2 separate regions of the Homo sapiens genome follow, and region 2 is linked to region 1. The links come from fine-mapping of genetic effects on gene expression. A gene starts in region 1. The other region holds a variant in brackets. All regions are shown on one strand. Distances are from middle to middle.

What was found.
Region 2: its variant is fine-mapped to the expression of LRRC43 in whole blood (TOPMed, PIP 0.99).

Annotation. Positions count from the first base shown.
Region 1 is chr12:122,181,905-122,184,920 of GRCh38, reverse strand. It overlaps LRRC43 (leucine rich repeat containing 43), which reads right to left and starts at 1,798. Exons shown (of 12, transcript NM_001098519.2): 1 at 1,627-1,798; 2 at 142-402. The coding sequence starts at 1,776. RefSeq lists an enhancer at 8-77 and a silencer at 1,671-1,770.
Region 2 is chr12:122,211,147-122,213,646 of GRCh38, reverse strand. The region is part of intron 5 of DIABLO (diablo IAP-binding mitochondrial protein); the gene reads left to right. Among named protein-coding and RNA genes, the nearest start is that of B3GNT4, 8.7 kb to the right of the region's middle. The variant A/T (reference allele first, on the strand shown) is at 1,101.

The DNA of each region.
Region 1 (3,016 bases):
AAGCAGATGGAGGGCAGGCTGGCCTTCGTTTCAGCCCTGAAAGCAGGATCCCTGACGCGCTGTGGGGAAGGGTGCCCTCCCCACAACCTCCCTTAGGGGAGCGGCCACCCTAACATCACCTACCACGTGCCCAGCACTGACCTTCTTGTCTATTACCCGCAGGGACCGGAAGTAGGAGTAGAAGAAGGTGTCTGTGATCGTCAGCGGGTTCCGGATGGCCAATTCTCTCAGGAAACTGTCTTCTGCATTCGAGTTGTTCAGCAGAGCCCAGGGGGAGTGGCGGCTGCGGACCAGGCCCAGCAGGGCCTCCACCGTCTCCTCTCCGGGGCTCACCACATCCTCCTCTCTGGGGACAAGCTCCCTCCAAGTTCGCCAAGTTTGAGGAAGAAAGCGCGACTTATTCTGCAGTGGCAGAGGAGGGATTTTCTGTAGGTGTGACACAGCCCCCTTAAGGACACCAAACTCTCAAAACAGAACAGATCATAAAACTGGACGATTAGGGATAGAGTTTAGAAATCTAGAGAGTAGGCCAGGTGCGGTGGCTCATGCCTGTAATCCCAGCACTTTGGGAGGCTGAGGCAGGCGGATCATGAGGTCAAGAGATCGAGGCCATCCTGGCTAACACGGTGAAACCCCGTCTCGACTAAAAATACAAAAAATTAGCCGGGCGTGGTGGCACGCAACTGTAGTCTCAGCTACTCGGGAGGCTAAGGCAGGAGAATCGTTTGAACCCGGGAGGCGGAGGTTGCAGTGAGCCGAGATCACGCCACTGCACTCCAGGCTGGGTGACAGAGCGAGACTCCGTCTCAAAAAAAAAAAAAAAAATCTAGACAGTGAATAATCAATAATTTTGATGGATTATTAGCCATGGATATAACTACAGATGAGGTGAGATACAAAATAATTAAAAGGTGCCATTCCTTTTAAAAAGGCAGGTGGATCACTTGAGGTCAGGAGTTTGAGACCAGCCTGGGCAACATGGTGAAATCCTGTCTCTACTAAAAATACAATAATTAGCCGGGCATGGTGGCAGGTGCCTGTAATCCCTGCTACTTGGGAGGCGGAGGTTGCAGTAAGTCGACATCGCGTCACTATGCTCCAGCCTGGGCAGTAAGCCTTCCTGGGCCACACCTGGGCGCCCCTCGTGGTTGAAGCCACGGGAGGGAAGGGTCTAGGACTCTGGAGACAGGGAGGCAGGATGGGGGGTAACCCCTTCTCCTGGACTCAAGGTCGCAGGCTTCAGGCTGAGCCACCTCTCACACTGCCTCAGGCTCTTATTAAATGCTCGGAGGCTGGGAAAAGTTGTGGAACTCTTTGCCCAAAACAAAAGCTTTTCACCCCAAAAGGAGCCTGCCCACTAGAAATCTGGGGTGTTGACGTCTTCAAGTCAGGGAGAGGCCCCAGCCCAGGTCAGCTGATGTGCTCAGGACGGGCCCCGCTCTCCTCCCCGCGCAGTGCCCGCGACTCGGGCCCCACCGTCACCCTCAAGCCCCACCCGCCCCCATGTCGGCGGCCCCCAGAATGCGCAGATCCCAGGCCCCAGGGACCAGCCCGCTCCGCTCGCCCGGGCCCGTGCCTCCCCGCAGCCGGTCCAGGCCCCCAGAGTTCCGGCCCCGGCGCCCGCACCCAGCTGCCGGCACCGCACGGGAACTCGCGCAGACACAGCTTCCGCAAGTGCTCGCGCACGGCCGCGCTCACGGTCCCGGTCCCGGGCCGCTGAGTCCCAGGCCCGGCCTCAGACTCGGACTCGGACTCGGACTCGTACGACGCCTCCATGGCCCGGGCCGCGTTGCCCGGCAACCGCTAGGACGCGTGCGCGGGGGCAGGGGCCTCTCCAGGCGCTCTCACCTGCCCCGAGGGAAAAGTCCCCCATCCGGATCAGACAGCCTGGCCCCAACCACCTGCGTTTTCTCTTCTGCCCTCATCTATAAAAATGGGATAACAGCTGGTGGTTCTAAGTGCGGCAGCTCCCGCAGGCAGTAAGCGCCATAGCTGACCTGTTTCTTAGCTCCTGTCAAGCACTCCCCACGGAAAGTCATCCTATACCCATCTGACAGATGGAGAAAGGAGAAGAGGGCCCAAGGTCAAACATCTCGACTCCAACCAGCCAGTGGGTTCCAGGGTGGTCTCTCTAACCCTGGAGTCAGGGATTTTATCACTGTCCACCTGTATAACTGTTTAATCACCCAGACCTCATTTTTTAAATTTTTTATTTATTTTATTTTATTGAGACAGAGTCTCGCTCTGTCGCCCAGGCTGGAGTCCAGTGGCGAGATCTCAGCTCACCGCAATCTCCGTGTCCCGGGTTCAAGCGATTCTCCTGCCTCAGCCTCCCGAGTAGCTGGGATTACAGGCGCGCATGACCACTTCCGGCTTTTTTTTTTTTTTTTTTTTTTTTGAGACCGAGTTTCACTCTTGTTGTCCAGGCTGGAGTGCAATGGCGCGATCTCGGCTCACTGCAACCTCCGCCTCCCAGATTCAACCGATTCTCCTGCCTCAGCCTCCCGAGTAGCTGGGATTACAACCGCCTGCCACAACGCCCCGCTAATGTGTATTTTTAGTAGAGACGGGGTTTCACCATGTTGGCCAGGCTGGTCTCGAACTCCTGACCTCAGGTGATCCACCCACCTCGGTCTCCCCAAGTGCTGGGATTACATACGTGAGCCACCGCACCCAGCCTAATTTTTTGTATTTTAGTAGAGATGGAGTTTCACCATGTTGCCCAGGTTGGTCTCAAACTCCTGGGCTCAGGCAATCCACTGGCCTCAGCCTCCCAAAGTGTTGGGATTACAGGCGTGAGCCACCACGCCCAGCCATGAAGCTTCTTTTATAAGGACATTGATCCCATTCCTGAGGAGCCCCCAAACTTAATCACTTCCCAAAGGGCCCCACGTTTTAATACTATCACACTGGGCATCAGGTTCTGACAAATGAATTTTGGAGGAACACATTAACATCTCTCATTCTTTTTGACTATACGATATCGGGACAACTTTACTGTTATTAGAAAAATTAG
Region 2 (2,500 bases), 29 kb before region 1:
TATCTAGAAGGAGAAAAGGAGAATATCTAGAAGGAGAAAAGGAGGGGATGTATAAGCATTATTTGAGAAAAGTAGACATTTTCCTAGAACTCATAGAAAGGGCTAACAAAGTTGTAAACGGAATTTTTTTTTTTTTTTTCCCTGAGACAAGGTCTTACTCTGTTACCAGGCTGGAGTACAGTGGCACAATCATGGCTCACTGCTTACTACAGCCTTAGCCTCTGGGCTCAAGCGATCCTACCATGTCAGTCTCCCAGGTAGCTGGGATTATATGTTTCCGGTAGAGACAGGATTTTGCCATGTTGTCCAGGCTGGTCTTGAACTCCTGAGCTCAAGTGATCCACCCGCCTTGGCCTCTCAAACTGCTGGGATTACAGACATGAGACACTGTGCACGGCCTTATGATTTCACTTTTTTAACCAAAAATCTGGTCCAGGTGCAGTGGCTCATACCTGTTGTAATCCCAGCACTTCGGGATGCCTAAGCAGGTGGATCACTTGAGCTCAGGAGTTCGAGACCAGACTTGACAACACGATGAAACCCTGTCTCTACAAAAAAATTAGCCAGGCATGGTGATGGGCGCCTGTAGTCCCAGCTTCTTGGGAGGCTGAGGTGAGAGGATCACTTGGGCCCTGGAGGTCGAGGCTGCAGTGAGCCATGATCAGGCCAGTGTACCCCAGCCTGGTTGACAAAGCAAGACCCTGTCTTAAAAACAAAAAAATGGCCGGGCGCAGTGGCTCACGCCTGTAATCCCAGCACTTTAGGAGGCTGAGGTGGGCGGATCATGTGGTCAGGAGATAAAGACCATCCTGGTTAACATGGTAAAACCCCGTCTCTACTAAAAATACAAAAAAATTAGCTATGTGTGGTGGCGGGTGCCTGTAGTCCCAGCTACTCGGGAGGCTGAGGCAGGAGAATGGCGTGAACCTGGGAGGCAGAGCTTGCAGTGAGCAGAGATCACACCACTGCACTCCACCCTGGGCAACAGAGCAAGACTCCATCTCAAAAAAAAAAACAAAAATAAATAAATAAGCGAACAATAAAGTAACAGCATAACAAAAAGATTCAGAGCAAAATCCCAAAAGCTACTAAGAAAAAAT[A/T]GATTACCTACAAAGGAAGTAGAATCAAACATCAGGCATCTTCTCCGCAACACTAGAGGTGACGATAAATCCATAACCTAGGATTTTATGTATAGCCAACTACCATCAAAAAGTGAGAATAAAAGATATCCTCAGACATAGACTCAAAGTACCACCTGTATACACTTTCTGGAAGAACTATGAAGAAGGAAAAATCAGTTTTGAGAGAAGCTACTAAGATTTTTTTTCAAAAGTTCTGAGTGTAAAACAAGTTTTTAAATTTGGGAAAGTGAAAACATGCTAAGCACATTGACATTAGACATTGTTAAACACTGCAAAGAGAATTAGTAGGAGTGGGAGGAAACTTGGTAGCTCCAGTTGAGGCAGGAAAGGTTTAAAAAGAAAACCCGTCAATTAGAAAATACAAAATTGGGCCACGTGCAGTAGTTCACACCTATGATCCCAGCACTTTGGAAGGCCAAGTCAGATGGATCAGCTGAGGTCAAGAGTTCGAGACCAGCCTGGCCAACATGGCAAAACTCCATCTGTAATTTAAAAAAAAAAAAAAAAAATTATAGGAATAATTTCAAACATCAGTGATTGCAGTAAAAATAAACTTATTAAATGACACGTTTAGATTGTGTTCCAAAATTTAGCTAAAACTAGCTAAATCAAAGAATTCAAGATAAAAAGTAATCAGTAGGACAGAACAATTCATTAAGACATTATCAATCATGAAATGTACTTAATGAGGCAAAAACTGATAGAATTACAAGGAGATCTGAGATGTGTGTAATACTCAATTTTCTGAGCACGCTTGCAGGTCAAGACAACCAAAAAAATTAAAGCTATTAAAGCTATTAAGGATTAGAACAGAATTTGTTTTGGAGACAGGGTCTTGCTCTGTTGCCCAGGCTGGAGTGTAATGGCATGATCACAGCTTACTGCAGCCTTGACCTGGGCTCAAGCCATCTTCCCATTTCAGCGTCCCAAGCAGCCCAACTAATTTTCTTTTTTTTTTTTAAGAGTTGGTGTCTTGTTATGTTCCCCAGGCTGATTTTGAACTCATGGGCTCAAGTGATCCTCCCGTCTTGGCCTGCCAGAGTGCTAGGATCACAGGCGTGAGCTGAGCCACTGCACCCAGCTCAGTGTGATTGTTTTTTATTTTGGAGACAGGGTCTCACTCTGTCACCCGGGTTGGAGTGCAGTTCCTTGATCTTGGCTCACCGTTACTTCTGCCTCCCAGGGTCAAGCAATCCTGTCTCAGCCTCCTGAGTAGCTGGGACCACAGGCAGTCACCACCACGCCCGATTAATCTTTTTTATTTTTTGGTAGAGATGGGGTTTCACCATGTTGCCCAGGCTAGTCTCGAACTCCTGAGCTAAGGCAGTCCACCTGCCTCAGCCTCCCAAAGTGCTGGG